Linked DNA regions of Homo sapiens: region 2 is linked to region 1. Evidence: fine-mapped expression QTL. Tissue or cell type: fibroblasts. Region 1 holds a variant in brackets; the other region holds the start of a gene. All regions are shown on one strand. Distances are between the middles of the regions.

The links. PIP is the estimated chance that this variant, and not a neighbour inherited with it, causes the effect.
Region 2: CRMP1 starts here. The variant in region 1 is fine-mapped to the expression of CRMP1 in fibroblasts (GTEx, PIP above 0.99).

What each region holds. Positions count from the first base shown.
Region 1 is chr4:5,743,959-5,751,958 of GRCh38, forward strand. It overlaps EVC (EvC ciliary complex subunit 1), which reads left to right. Exons shown (of 21, transcript NM_153717.3): 7 at 1,246-1,383; 8 at 4,190-4,348. Among named protein-coding and RNA genes, the nearest start is that of EVC, 37 kb to the left of the region's middle. The variant G/C (reference allele first, on the strand shown) is at 4,276.
Region 2 is chr4:5,888,785-5,896,898 of GRCh38, forward strand. CRMP1 (collapsin response mediator protein 1) reads right to left here and starts at 4,302. Exons shown (of 14, transcript NM_001014809.3): 1 at 3,805-4,302. The coding sequence starts at 4,185. RefSeq lists enhancers at 1,419-2,163, 2,164-2,907.

The DNA.
Region 1 (8,000 bases):
AATAAGAGCCTTGGAGTCTGCAGACCTCAGATCAAATTCCATCTCTACGAGTTAAACAAGGCTGTCTGAACTTAAGCAAGCATGTTAATTATAATAGTGGCTACTATTTGTTGAGATAGGCTAGCCAAGTGATTTAAATGCATAATTTCATTTAACACTTGGAATGACCTTAAAACTTTCAGAAGAGGACAAGGAGTGCCCAGAATTTGGAAGAGTAAGGACAAGCCTGGCACTGCCCCTTCCTGCCTGGGCATCTTTGGACAAACTATCTTACCTTCCATAAACCAGCTTTCTCACCTGGAAATGGGTCATAATTTCTCTTTCACAGAGATGCCGTGAGGATTAGAAATCACATATGGCCTCAGCTTGGGTCTTCAATAGTAGTTTATATCAATGTTATTTTTCCTAGTGAACCTTGACCCATGCCACACTGTTGGCTATGTGACAATGAATATAGAGAAAATAGAACTGCCTCCCACACACTATCTTGGGGTTTGTGAGTCTATACTTAGGACTCACCTTTTCCTTCCTGAGTTCAGAATCATTTGAGAGAGTCAGGAGGACAGATATAGAAATGTAGCTTTGTTACTGATTAGAGGCCAGCTTGGACGATGTGGCTTACATGCACAGCTATCATGGCTTCCTAATACTGAATCCCAGAATTCACTCAATTGCCTAGCTAGTCACGGGCAATGCTGGGCCACCTCAGGCTTCCCCACACAGAAACAGGGCCTTGGCTACCCAGCTCACTCTAGGCTGATATCACACCAGAGCAATGGCCTCCCCTGATTGGCCCATCACAAACAGGAAGAGGCTGGGCAAGTTTCTGGCCTTTAAACCAACCAATCAAATACACACCACTTCCTGCCCTGGGGTGTTGTTCTTTCCCAGGAAAACCAGAAGAGGAGCAAAGAAACATTCCTTCCCAACCCACTGGATGTCATGATATTTTCCAGGACTTCATAATGATTGAAAGATACTATTTTATTGATTTTTAAAGTATGGTCTAGTTTTTTTTTTTTTTTTGAGGGAGGATATAGAGGAAAATAATCCATTATTCTTGAGGCTCTATGTTTAATGAGAAAATGGGTCAAACCTCATGTACAACAACCCCCAGAGCATTTAACTATTGTTTAAAAATATTTTGTGAAATTTGAAAAATAAAAGCATTTATTTTTCTAGAATTTAAGACACGCTAAACTTTTTCTTTGTTTATTTGCTTTCTTTTTTCTTCTTCTTCTTCAGGATTTGGAGGAACTAGAAAAGGGACTTCAGGTCAAACTGTCAAACACAGAAATGTCGGGGGCTGGTGACTCTGAGTACATCACCCTGGCTGATGTGGAAAAGAAGGAGAGAGAATACTCTGAACAGCTAATCGATAATGTGCGTGCCAGACTTTCTTTCCTGTACACAAATTTTGGTTCCTAAAACAGTTAAATTGGCTACATTAGAGAGATGATAGTTAGAAGTGTGCCTAATACTTGAATTCCCCTATCGCATTCTGCCCTAGAGGCAGGATCCAGTTTCTGATGCTAAGTGATAGGGAAGAAGTAATTAAGCAGCAAAGATTCACAAAGGGAGGTTTATTTTTTATATCATGAATTATCCTCATTTAAATTTCAGATTGGTCTTTTTATCATTCAAAGCAAAGGTTGCTATAACCCTTGATGTCATCACTGCCCTTTGGAATAGAGTAGAAGAAAGCTGCTAGGCATCACTCGTGAAAGCAAGTTTTAAATTCCAGACAGAATGGCTTCTCTGAAACATCGTTTTTCTTTTCTTTTGGGTTCCACCACCCCCTGTTCATATATTATGTATTAAACAAACATGTCCTTGGCACTTGCTCTTCACCAGGGATTGTGCTGGGCACTGGGGACTCAAAAATCATTTAGACATGGCCCTGCCTGAGAGAGGCCAGGAGAGACAAACAGGTGAACAGATGAGGGCTTCACAGAGTGACACATCTTGTGATAGAAGGAAGCACAGGAGAAGGCCCGAGGCAGGCACAGTGGAGGGAAGAGTTCATTTTACCCCAGGCTTAGGAAAGCCTCCGTAGAAGAAGGGACCATGGAGAGGCTGGCCGGGAGAAGTGTGGGTGCTGGCCAGTGGTGGGGCAGAGATGGGAGCTAAAGAGGGCTGAGAGCAAGTCGAGGTAAGGTAAAGCCAGAGGGATCTGGCCAGAGGGCTTGTTTGTGTCTTAAGCCAGCGAGATGGGAGTGTCTATTGCCAGCGAGGTGGGAGTCACTGAAGCTTTGAAGCAGGGGGTGGCTGGCTTCAGCTTCTGCTTTAGAAGGGCTGCCCAGGCACTGAGTGGAGGGTGGTGAAGAGCTACTGGGCTAATCCAGCAGGAACTTTATTAAGGCAACTGCAGTAGGATGGAGAGGTGAGGAAACGTGTGAGAGAAGCTGTGGTGGTCTACCATGGGGCGGCAGGTGGGGAGGAGGAGGGGGTCCAGGGTCAGTGCTGCTGAAATAAGCGCCCCAGAGCAAGATGCTCATGGGAGGGAGGGAGCCAATGCTCCTGTCCTCTGAATAGGTCCAATATTGAGAGGAGAGGCTTGGAGATGGAGGGTCTCCATGAGAGCCCAGGTTAGAGGACTTTGAGGGCCAGAATGTTCTTAGAACTGTGGGCCAGGATGCTAAGGAAGAGGGCCAGCCTGGATTCCGGTGGTCCACAGAACCCCCAACGCTGTGTGCAGTATCTTGTCCATGTCTGCCTTTCTCAGGGACAGGGTTCAGAATTTTCATAAGATTCTCCAAAGTATTGGTGACCTCCAAAAATGGTGACCTCTGGCCTAGAAATGGTGTGTAAAATGGGAAGAGAAAAGAGCTTTGGTGCCAAATCCTGGATCCTGCCCATATTTAAGGAGGAGCGGATGAGAAGAATTGGGACAAGAAAGCAGAGGAGGAATTGGATGGGCTTTGCAGAAGCAGGAGAAAATCATGTCATGGACGCCAAGAGAATCAGGAGTTTGTAAGCAGAGCGGGCTGTGTAGAGTTGGCAGGTGACAGTCTGCAGTCACGTGGCAGGTGGAAGGCAGGTCATCTGATGGCTCCAAGGGGAAGAGCAGGGTGAGAGCCTGAGGGTGTCAGGCAGGTTTGAGGTCCCTCCTGGCAGGGATGAGAGGAGGAGCAGCATGTATGGGGTTTACTGGGAGGCAATGGGGCCCTGAGATGGGGAGCCGCATTGATGAGGGGTGTTCATCTGGGTGCAGGCTTCCTCCTGGCAGAGCCAGACCGACACCGCAGTTGAGGCTGACAGAGTTTCATGATCTTGAGTCACAGCAACAAAATCATGGGTTTCTGGTGACACTAACCCCTGCCCCCTCCCATGCCCAGTCCAGCCAGAAGTGTCCATTTCAGCCTCTCAGAGGCTGAGCCAAGATGGAGGCAACCTCAGCCGTGGAGTTAAATGGACCTGAACCAAATCCGGGCTTTCACTGGGTCCATGACCTCTGACAAGTGACCTAACTCCCCCGAGCCTGTTCCTACACCTCTAGATACATACTTTATCATGATATCAAATGTGTGAAGCACAGAGCCTGGCGAACAGCCTGTGGGCCATGAGGGAAAGTTGCTCCGATTCCTAGTGTCATTGTCCTTAGAGCTCTGACTGGCTGTGATGACTCAATTAAACCTCCTGCATTCTAAGCCACTTGGGAATTCCCAGCTCTGCTCCTGATAAAATGAGGGGGAGGGAAGATTTTAAAGCAAAATGTTTTCATGGTCAGCATCCTCTCTGCCATATTAAGCTTTTGTACTTTTAGGACAATAACTAATATTTAAACATCTGTTTATGCTTTTACTTCCAGGAAGTATTTAATCCCATTTAAAATTGCCAAAGCTTCCATGAGCACATTGTCACATTTCATCGGCCCCTAGGTAGCTGTAATGACCTGTGCAAGAGTCTGTAGGCTGGACAAGCTACTGCTTTCTTTCCTTAGCAGCAGTGCTCTCGTGTCTGCTGAAACACCATTGCAAAACTGACTGACACTGGAACCAGACAATGGAACCAGAAAGAACTTCACTGTAGAACGTGATTGTTGCCAAGATAAACTCACTGAAACTGTAGAATTGTTTAGAATCTTTGTTTGTGATAGGGAGTGAATTGTAATTCCCGAGCACGCACCGTTTGGCTTTCTTAAGTAAGTTTTTCACCTCACTTCTTGCTGCTTGTGCTCATTTCACAGATGGAAGCTTTCTGGAAACAGATGGCAAATATCCAGCACTTTCTTGTGGACCAGTTTAAGTGTTCCAGCTCCAAAGCCCGACAGCT[G/C]ATGATGACTCTGACGGAAAGAATGATTGCAGCCGAAGGGCTATTGTGCGATTCTCAGGAGCTGCAGGCTCTGGTAATGCTGGAGGGGGCGGGAGGGAACATAAAGATATTCAGACTAGAGATATGGAATCCTGAGGCTTGACATCCTTAAATCTAACAGATTCATGTTGTAGCTGGTTATATAGAGCCTCAGGGAAAAAAAAACCAACAACAACAGTAAATTCATTCATCCATTTATTTATTTATCCATCCATCCACCCATCCATCCACCCATTGACCCTTCCATCCATCCATCCATCTACCCATCCATCCATCTGCCCTCCCACCCATTTATCCATCCATCCATCCACCCATCCATCCATCCATCCACCCATCCATCCACCCACCCATCCATCCATCTGCCCTCCCACCCATTTATCCATCCATCCATCCCTCCATCCATCCATCCACCCACCCATCCATCCACCCGTCCACCCATCCACCCACCCACCCATCCACCCATCAATCCACCCATCCATCCATTTACTCATCCATCCATCCATCCACCCATCCATCCATCCATCCATCCATCCGTCTATCCAATGAGTGAAGGCTCTGGCCAGCTCAGTATTACTGGAGCATAGAACACTGGTCCTAAACCTGAAATTACACATTGAAATTATCTGGGAGCTTTAAAAAGTACTGATTCTTGGGCCCCAGATGGGTCTCCATCCCAGAGTTTCTGACTTAATCAGATTGGGGTGCAACCTGGCTGGGCATTGGGGTTTTTAGAGCTCCCCAATGACGATGGTGGGAGCTGGGGTTGACGCCCACTGGTGTAGACAGAGCATTGATTGACTTTCCTGATTGCCCTGTTTTGCCTGCAGAGTTCTTTAACAATGCCTTTTCCTGGCCTTCACTCTGAGGTTCTAATATGATTGGTCTGGAGTGGAGGCCCTGGCATTGTGGGTTTTAAAACTCCCTGAACTATTCTGACGGGAGGCCAGGGATACAAACCCCTGGTGCATGGGTGTCCAACCTTTTGGCTTCCCTGGGCCACATTGGAAGAAGAAGAATTGTCTTAGGCCACACATAAAATACATTAACACTAACGATAGCTGATGAGCGGAAAAAAAAAAAAAAAAAAAGGTCCCTCCTTATTTTTGTGAAGCCTGCCAACCACAGATAAGCAAAAAAGTCCTCACATTCAAAGGGTTGGACACCCGTGGGAGAGAAATCTGCGAATCCAGCTTTGACTCTGGGCTCTGTTGTTTGGAGCTGTGTGATCTTGAACACATTACTTAACCTCTCTGCGCGTCTGTTCCTCTATTTATAAAATAATAGTGCTAAGAGTTGCCACAGACAGGGCCTGGCTAGATGCTGAGTGACTCCTAACACCCCAGTCACCATTGGGTTCCTCTTGGTACACATTGGGCTCATCCTGTGTGCGCCAGTGTGTACTAGGGCCAGGGAACGAGCCCTCTGATGCTGCCCTGCACCCATTTCCCCGTCCTGTGCACCAGCCCGTGTGGCAGCTCGGCTCAGAACCCTGCAGTGGCCACCCTGCCCTCAGCACAGACTCAGCTCCTCAGACCCGTGGGAAAGCCAAGCCTCAACGGATCTTTGCCTCCCCTTGCACACCACATGCCTCTCCCAATCCGCTCTGCTCCTCCAGGTGTGATCCACAGACCACAGCATCGGCAACACTGGGAGCTGGTTAGAGTGCAGAATCCTGTCCTCCACCCTTCCCAAGCAGGATCTGCACTTTAACAAGACCCCCACATCCACACAGTTGTTTGAGAACTTCATGTGCTTTTTCTCGGTATATACACACATGGCCTTTTTTTTCTGTCAACACTGCCGAAAGATAGGTATGGAAGATATTTTATTCACAGCACGCAGATAAGGAGCCCACTCAGTGATCCACCTAAGATCCCCGTCCTCTCTAATGACATCGCTGAGCCTGGGCCTGAAGCTTCCTGGTTTGCTGCCCAAGCCCCTTTGAATTGGATTTCAGTTTGATAAGGCTGCTGACTCATTAATGCTCTGCAAAGGTGAAAGACTTTTCTTCCTATATTTTTTTCTTTTGCTATCAGCAGGATATTGATGCAGAAAAAAGAAAATACATCCTTAGCTGACTCTGGCCAGAGTATCAGCCAATAACTTCCAAATAGGAAGAAGGAAAGGGATCCTCCAGTTTAACAGCATGACTGTCCTTCAGCCAATGTTTAATGAGCACCTACTGTGTAGCACATGCTGTTCATGGAAACCATATTGCAGAGGTTAGGAATGCAGGCTCAGGGAAGAAACTGGAGCTCCCACTGCAGTCTTGCCACTCGTTAGCTGTGTGATCTTGGGCAGATAATTTAACCTCTCTGTGATTTGGTTTCATTTTCTGTGAAATGGGGGCTATGATAGCACCTGCTCTCTCACAGGGTAGTTGAGGGTGTTAAAGACTTGGCAGTATGTAAAGTTTTTAGAGCAGAGCCCGGCACGTAGGAAGCATTCAGTACTTGTTAGTCATTAGAGTCCTGCAGGCCACATGTCAGCAGGAGAAATAGACAGCAAAAAATTACTGTAATGATGCATGGACAGGGCTACACAGTCTATGTTTGTATAGAAGAGGGATGGATTCACTATGCCTGCATACCGGGCACCAAAGGGAAAAAAGATGGCTTCCGTATCTCAGAACACAGAAGAGTTGGAATTCCCAGGGCGGCATCCCATCTTTCTGGCCTGGGCATTTGGAGCTGAAATGTGCATCTGTAAATATTAAAACTGGAAGAGCCCTTCAAAGGGACCCTGACGGTCATCAGATTCAGTTTCTTGAGACTCACAGGAAAAAAAACAGCTGCCAAGACAGATGGGACTGGCTGTAGATAATGGTGAAAACAGCTGACACTCAGGGAGGCTCACTGTTCCCTGGCCGTTGTTCTCAATGCTTCACGTATTTTGACTTACTTAATCCTCATGTCAAATCTGTGTGGCAAGGGTCAGGTGAGGAGCTTGTGCTCAGGTCCTGGGAGCCAAGTCTGAGCCTGGCACTGTTGACTCAGCCACACTCAGAGCACATCAGGGCCCCCTTCCCCCATTCCACATCCCTCTTCTCACGCCACTCTCTCCACTTCCATCCTCCCTCCAATATAAGCACATCGATTGCACCACCACTGCCGAATCCAGCCAGCCTGTGTTGGGTTCTCAACATGCTCTTTAGAGGTGGCCAGAGCCGCCCTTCCCGCGGCCCACCTGGCACCTCCGCTTATCCTCTTGCACCCTCTAGGGTTCACGGGCTGCTGGAATGAGCCTCGCCGTCCTTGTCCATCGCTGGGGGATGTTCTTGCCCTAGTCTTGTGTTGTGGGAACAGAGGCCAGTGCAGCTCAGCGCACAGTGTGGCCATGGCTGGTCAAGGGGACGTGGGCGACTCAGGCCTGGCCCCTGTCTTCAAGGGCTCTCAGTCCAGGCTGGGACTGCCCCTCACAATCACCTCCTCGAAGACAGGAGCCCTGGGGCAGTGGAGAACAGAGTAGGGGACCAGTGAGGGTGGGGACAAGCAGGGAAGGACCACAGAACCCATGAGGACATAGAAGGACCTGGCTGGGCAGGGGAGTGAGAGGAGGCAGTGAGGGTGTTCCAGGAGGAAGGCCCCGCATGTGCAGAGGCTGGGCAGCCGGGACCAGGCAGGTGTGCAGGACAGGGCCCCACAGAACTTCCTGCACCATGCCTGGGGTGCTGGACTTGATCTCAG
Region 2 (8,114 bases), 140 kb after region 1:
GTGTGGCCGCGCGTCTGGAGGCCTCCCCGGAACATCTGCGGGGGTGTGGGGGGAGGGAGTGTGGGACGGGGGCCAAGGATCGGCCCAAGCTGCTGGGAACGTTCTTGTCCCTCCAGGATCGCGCCCAAGGACCGCTCCCCTCTTGCCTCTCCTTCCATAGCCTCCGTTTATCCTTCCCGAGTGCCTCTCCCTGAATGCACCAAGCACTTTTTCCATCTCGGACCCCAAGCCTTTATTCACGCTGTACCCTCTCCCTGAATAGTCTACCCCAGACAAAAGCCTGTCCACTCCCCTAGACCCATCTCCAATGCCTTCCCCACCACGAAGCCTCTCCCTGCCACCCTCTCCATCCTAGCATTGAACCAGCCCTCCCTGGGGGCCTCTAAGGTGGAGCCCCCTAACTGGCAGAGGGAACAGCAGGGACAGAAGGGTACGGCCTTAATTAATGCTGACCTGTTCTACTCCAACAGCAGCTCCCTCATCACACAGCAGCCTGACACTGGGGCCACCAGGTCACCCCACAGAATTGCCTCCAAGACAGCAGGTGTTTGGAGGGCTGGGCCACTGGCACCAAGGTCTCCACAGCCCTGGGGACAAGCTGGGGGTCAGGAGGAGGACTAGGGTGCTCCTGCCTCCCAGCACTGTGGACACCAGCCCCGGAGTCCATGATCCAGATGTTGCTCCAGAGGGAGGTGGGCAGGAAGCCAGGTCACAGCTTGACAAGGTCCGTAACAGCAGAGGGGAAAAGATGAAAGAAGATGGAGGAAAAGGGGGAGCCCCAGCAAGCCCCAACCTCACTGGACAGGTGCCCCAAGTTCCCAGGCAGAATAAAACACCAACCTTGTCCACCACTTCGTTGTTCATTTTCTGCATGCGAAATCCAACCCCACAGGTCCTATGAAACTACTCATCTTTTCTGCTTTCAAGTTGCCATCCAGAGCGAGGGTGGCCTAGGCTTGGTACAGCTCCCCCAGCACTGTGGTTGGGGGCTGGGGCCCTGACCTTCACCACCCCAGGGGCCAGTCCCCTAATCCAGGGCAGGAGGCCAGAGACACCTGGGCCTTAAAATAGAGGTGAGGTTTTAGCTTCACAGAGAAGCCAGCTCAGTATCCCAGGAACACTAGGCATAATTTTCCCATTTTACAGACAGGAAATTGAGGCTTACAGAGGTAAAATGATGTACCCCGGGTGCAAAACATATTAGCTGCAGCAAAGCAGCATGGAGATGCCAGGTTCCCCTACACTCTGTTTACAACTCATTTCCCTCCACGCATTCATGCATCCCTGGCTCTCAGCGGGGCCTAAAATCCCTGTCAATGACCGGAAATTGCAGATGGGGACACTGTCCCTCCCCAACTCCTACACTCCCTTCCTTGGAGTTGTTAAGTCCTAGGTTCCCCGTACCAGGGCGTTCCCTGGGGTCAGTCTGGAGATCTGAGCAGAAAGCCCCTACAGCAAGGGACAAGACCACGTGCGTATCAGGGGGAGGAGCATCCGCCTGCCACTGGCCAAACAGATCGCTGCTCCCAAGCAGATTTCGCCGGTACAAAGCGCCGCAGCCGCTCAGCCTCCGGCAGCGGCAATCCTTGCGCCTGCGCCGCAGAAACCCCTCCTGCAGCCCAGGGAGAAGCCTGGTGGGCGGGGGGGGAAGGGCCGGGGCACCCGTTGCGAAGCCCTGGAGCGGTGAGGCCCGCCCCGGAACCCGAGCCCACTGTAACCCAAGCCTCAAGGCCGCTCTGCCGGCAGAAAGTAAAACCCTCCCTCCGTGGAGATCGCGAGCCCCTGAGTTCCACAGTCGCGAAGCTCGAGTGCTTTCGGAGCCCCGGGAGCGCCAGAGGCGCTGCCTTTTGTCCGGTGCCTGAGAAGCCATGGAGAAAGGCAGAGGGGACCACAGGGAGAAGAGGAAGGAGTAGGGGAGAGGAACGGGAGAGGTGAAGCGACCAGCGTCCCCAAGGGTCAGGGCGCAGCTGCGGGGCTGGCCCAGGCTGCGCCCTGGGGGAGATGCTGGCGTTGGTGACATTGACCGCAGTTCCAGAGGAACTCTCCTTGGGACAGCTACGGGCCGTGCACAAAGCGCCCTCGCCTCCCTAGTACTCCACCACGCTTTGAGGAAGGCCGGAAGAAGACGGCCACCCCCATCTGACAGATGGAGAAGCTGAGGCCCAAGAGAGCAAAGCGCCTTGGCTGGAAACCCGGATTCCCTGGTGCTGGTCCCGCTTCTCGGCCCGCGGCCCAGAAGCCTCCCCATCGGGCTCGGGAGTTTGGATCCCAAGAGAGGTCGGACCACCAGGGAAGGTAGTGGACAGGGGGAGATACAGAAGGGGTGGGGGAAGAGGAAGCTGGACTCTCGCACCATCTCCCTTTCTGATCACCCCACCACCACACACACATACACACACACACACACACACACACACACACACACACACCCTTGCTGTTGGACCTCTCCCTCGCGAGGCTCCGGCTTCAGGACCACGGAGAGCTCTGGAGCAACAGCCCGCCCGCGAAGGGATGGGGCCCGAAGAGGCCCACCACCGTGTTTACCAGTTCCCTGCTCCTATTCCTCCAGGAAGCCCTCCCAGATATCTGCCCCGATCAAGCTCTGCTTCCCTCCAGGCTCACTTTGGGTCACTCATAGCATTTAAGAGGGGAAGGTTTAATTAAAATGATAATGATTGTAATAAAAGTCAACAACAAACATTTATTGAATGCTCACTACCGACCGGCATTAACTGATTTAATTCTCACAATGAATCCGTCGCTCACCCTAGCCTGGGAACTTCTGGAGGGTGGGGCCAGGTTGCTGAGCCAGGGACCTAGCGCCTACCCTGGGCCTGGCACCTAGCAGTTCTCCGGCATCCAGGTCTGGACCAATTCGAAAGCTCCCCAGCCCTCGGATGCTCCAACTTCCGTTTTTCTGGCACCTGACCCTGGCTCTCGTCGGTCCATCCAAAGGCTACGCCGTCCATCCGCCCTTCTTCCCCCAGTTTCCTGGTGACCCCCAGCTCAAGAGAGAATACCCGCAGGGCCCAAGCCCTAGCGTTCCCTCTCCCTGATCCTCCCGGCCCCATGCTCAGGTCCGGGAGGCCAGAGACCCCAGTTCAAATCCCAGCTCTACCTCCACCTTGCTCTGTGAAGCAGGCACATCGGTGTGTGCTGTGGAGCTCAGGAGTGCCCCTTGAATCTACTGGCGCTTGAGGGTAGGGGTTTACGGCTCCAACTGCCCGACGAACTAAATCCTTAACCAAATCCTTCCCCCCAGCAAGCATGAGGGGAGCGCTCGGAAAAAAAGCTCCTTCCAGCTTTAAGCTGTGTGGCCGCAGGCGACTCGCGGAACCTCTCCCGGGGCCCGGCACACAGTAGGTGCTCTATAATTACTACCGACTGAGTGGATGGATGAATGGACCAACACGGAACGGAGCTCCAGTTCTTTTCACAAAACAGAATGAGGGGCCTGGGTTAGATTCATCCCAGAGGTTCCTTCGCGTTTAAGCGTCCATGCGGTAGCTTTAGCCAACTTCCCCTCTCAGAACCTCTCTCCCTTTCTGTAGAAGAGGAGCCGGGACTGGACCCGGGCGATCCCTTCCGAGTCTCACGGACCACGCCGGCCAGCCCCGACCGAGTCGCCCCAGCTCTGGGAACCTCTTGCATGATGAGGTGGGGGAGGGGCCGCGCCGTGGCTCTCCCCAGCCTGGCGGCCGCTGCCCCAACACCGGGGCCCGGGCATGGCCCTCGGGCGCCCCATGCCCTGGGTCCTCCCGGGGCCCGCCCCCCTCGTCTGGCCCGCGCGCGCCCCGAGGGTACCTGGCCATTGTCCCGGCCGAGGGGCAGGTCGCGGGGCGCGGGGCGGCGGATGCGCAGCGTCGGCGGCCGCTCGTCGCGCTCTCCGGGAGAGCTGACCGCGGAGCCCGAGGGCTCGCTCACGTCGCTGGCCGTGTCCTCGCTGCCTCCCGGCCCTGGCAGCCCGACCGCGTCGGGCCGGCCAGCGCTGCGCGGCGTGCGCGCCGAGCCGCGGCGGCCCACACTGTAGGCGTCGAAGTCGATGGTCTTGTTCTCGTAGGCGCCCTCCACCGCGGCGAACATGCCGCCGTACTTCTGGCGCGGGGTCTGCGCCGCGCTGCCCGGCCGCGCCAGGTACACGGGCAGGTCGTCCTCGGTGTTCCACGCGCGCCGCCGGTCCGCCATACCCGTCCAAGGCCGGCCACCCACCGCGCTCCCGCCTGCCCGCCCGCGGCCCTGGGCACCGCCGTGCGCCGCGCTCCGCGCCTCGGTGCGGGCCTGCGGCGGCCCGGGCGCGACTGCGGCCCAGGGAGGGGAGGGGCGGGGCGTGGCGCGCGCCGGGGCGGGGCCGGGGCGGGGCCTCTGGGCGGCTGCGGGCTAGCGGCGCGGCCAGCTACAAAGGACCAGGAGGCGGGGATCGCGGCTGGGGCGGGGAGGGACGGTGACGCTCCCGAGCCGCAGCGCGGAGGGCGGGCCGCGGCACCGCAGTGCCCTCGCCGCACCCCCCACTCTCCGCCCCCAGGCGGAGCGCAGGGCGCGAGGAGAGCGCGGGGCAGGAGCCGTGTGCGTACACTCGCGCGCCCACACGCTCTGGAGGCACACGCGGGTTCATACCTGCACACCAGACAATTACGCCAAACACATGAGAGATGCACAGACATGCTGGCACACACACGAGAGTCAATCACACATGCTCTCCAGAGATACACAGGGGCTCGATCATGCACACCATACTCAATGTTGCACACACATACACATATATGCTTGTGCACATTCCGAGTTCATTACAAACACACAACAGAAATCCTCATTGTCTCACAACCCCACTCACACACAGTATCACACCAAGATTAATTGCACAACTGGAGAGGCACATGCGTTGGACACACCGTTCATTCCGTCAGTTTTATTTTGCTGAGCGCCCACTAGTGCCTAGCACTGTTGTAGGAGCTGGGAACAGAGCCATGGACAAAAGAGACCAAGTGCCTGCCCTCCAGGAGCTGACCTGCTAAGGAGGGGAATTGGATACAAAAGCACCCATATGGTGGGCCAAGAGGTGGTAAGGGCCAGGAAAGGTGGTGCAGCAGCCAAGAGGGACATGCTAGAGGCACACTCCGACAGACACATAAGAGAAGCACATTCTTGCATGAGAATCAGCGACACACACATACACGTGCACGCCAATGACACCACACAACACACCAATATCAAAGGCAAGCTCAGGGCGATTCCACACATGTGCATCATAAACTGGCAACAGGATGCCCACACACAAGTCCACACCAGTAATAAAGGAAGTCAAAAGCTTAAATAAAAACGCTCCAGAGAAAGACACACAGAGACAGAGATGACCACACACACACAGCTGGCAGTCAACCAGACAGACAGATATTCCCTCATTCGAGGGGCACAGTCCACTTTTGTTGCTCCTGGAGCTTGCAGTCTGGGCGTTCTGGGGTTTCTCTGTCGTGGAGGTCGCTCTGCTGGGGCTCTCCTCTAAGGCCAGGCACCACCTGCCTCCTATAGACACCTTCCCTTATTTCTCCACGATTATCAGGCAGAGGATCCTGCAAGTCCCTGGGGACCCTACAGTCCCAGCTGCACTTCCTGGAGAGGCAGAATCGCCAGCTGCCGACCCCCTCCTCGAGCCAGTCTAGACAAGCAAAGTCAGGACTGGGTGGGGACTGCAGAGGGGAGCATCAGTGCTTCTTGCAATGTCCCCCCACCCATAGCCTTCCATGCTGGGAGCTGTCCCTTCAACCCCGGGCCCTGCCAGCTGCAAGCCAGAGCTCCCGCAGCGTGACCAAGCTCCAGGAATACCAGACAGACAGATGGATTCATGTTCTTGTTTTATGACTCTTGGGCCCCATGGACTGAGGATCCTGGGGCCGTCGGATCCGTGGCCTCAGCTGACACCTCCCTGAAGCTACTGTCTTTCAACCCTGCAACAAGGGGTCTGTGCAGCAGGTAGGTATTTTTACCGGCCCCCTCTTGGAAGAGGAAACAGGAGGGGAGATGTGAAATGGCTCCCTCAGGGCCTCAATCTCAAGGAGGTTCAGCCAGGCCTAGAGCGTGGGCTCATCCACTCGGTGGGCATTTAGCAAGTTATTTTTCTGTGCTTGAGAGAGAGGCTAGTGTGGGGACACAGATGAGTATTTCTAAGTCTCTGTCTTCAACAAGTGTTTACTCTCATGGGGGAGAGAGTGCTGAATGCGAGAACAGAAAGTTCCACACACAGCCTCCATCTACCTTCCACCCACCGCAGCTGCATCCTGGCTCCTCTCTCCTTGTGTCCCTGGGTCCACTGTGCAGATTTGCCACAGACACTCCTCTTGAGGCCCATCAGCCTCCAGGCTATCTTGCAAGTGTTTTCGATTTTTCAATGAAAATTTTTCTCTGTCCTGTGAAATACTATTCCCAGCCCATTCCAGGCAAGAACAATTCATGTCGAAAACCACATAGAAATTTCTTCTAAAACCCCACAAATGTTCAGGGTGACATAACCCAGAGAAATATCAGAAAACTCAAAAGTCTGAGTTAGGTGGAACTTTGGAGGCCAGGCCTCCTACTGCATGCTTGAATCTGCTCTCAACATCTTGAGGACACAGTCTCTCAGGCTTTGTTGGTGGTGATGGAAATCTTACTGCTTCTAAAGAAAACCCTTTCCATTGTGAGAAAGGGCTGGGCAGTTGCCAAGACTAGAGGGAGTGACGCAAGGAAGGAGCTGAGAAAGTGCTGTCTTTATGCAGAAGCAGGAAAGGATCTTCATAGCTTCTGCTTATAGAAAGTTTACTACGTGCCCGGACCATGGTAAGCACCTAACAGATAGTAACTCTTTTATGCCTCGCAGCAACCTTGAAACTGCCATTTTAGCCTCATTTTACAGATGAGAAAACTGAGGTTCAGAGACATAAATAACCTGTCCAGGGTCACAGCTGGCAAGTAAGACTTCGAGGTTTAAACAGAGTAGTCTGGTGCCAGAGTCCACATCGAAACAACTACCCTTTCCTCTCCCCAAGAGCCTGACTGAGGTGGTCCCACTGGGAGATAAGAGATAAAGGGACCTAGTTTAGGCAGAAGAGTCTAGGTGGTTGAGTTAGAATCCTGTTTTGCATGCAGTCTTGGGCAACTAATCATTCGACATTCATCTAACACACCTTTGTGGCGCCCACTGCGTGTCACTGACTTTATATCACTTCCTCTCACTCTTTTCTCCCCATGCAGAGGAGGCGATCGGACCCTCCTGAAACTGCATACTGTGTATAAGGGTCCTTGCACACACAGTTCATTTCCGTGCATCATGCTCTGCCTTATACACTGCTGGCTCCCTCAGGCAGCCCCACGTGGCGAACCAGGCCACTTCCATCTTCAGGCTGGAGCGCTGAGGATGACAAACCTTAAGCCCATTGCTCAGGTTAACCACCGGGAAGTGACTAACCTGGGATTTCAACTCAGGTTTGTCTGAGTTTTTTCCACACCATCTCATCTCAAGGTCAGTAACCCAAGCGCAACAGAGAAAGGGAGGAAGGAAACAAAACCCAGGGTATAAAGTTGGAAATGCACCCTCCAGCTTGCACGGAGACAGAAAGGAGCAATATTTGCCAGGGACCAACAGAGGCAGCAGGGGAAGCCTGAGATAACTGCCCCCATCCTGACGACAGCTGTGACCTCCCCCATCCCCCAACCCATCCTCCAACTGCTCCTAGTCCTCCTGGGAAGGAGTTCTTATAAGTGAATTACAGCACTACATTTGGTGAAGGACAAACCTTGAGCTCATCATGTCAGACATGAAACCTTCTTCCTGGGTGATGGCAGAGAACAGAAAGGGACACGTCAGATGGGAGAGGACAAGAGGCCAGTTCAGGTCCGATGTGGATTTTGTTTCGGCAAACCAAAAAAAAAAAAAAAATTCGTTCATTCATTGCAAAAAGAATGTTTTCAAAAAATGAAGGAAAGGGGATTGTAGTTTATCATCAGGTATATAGTAATGGATTATTGTCCTCATCTCAGATATAAGAAAAGATGTTCAGAGAAGTTAAACAAGTAAACATGTTCGGTTACATGGCCAGCAAGTGACAGAGATGCAGTTCAAATCCAGGCTCATTTGATTTTTA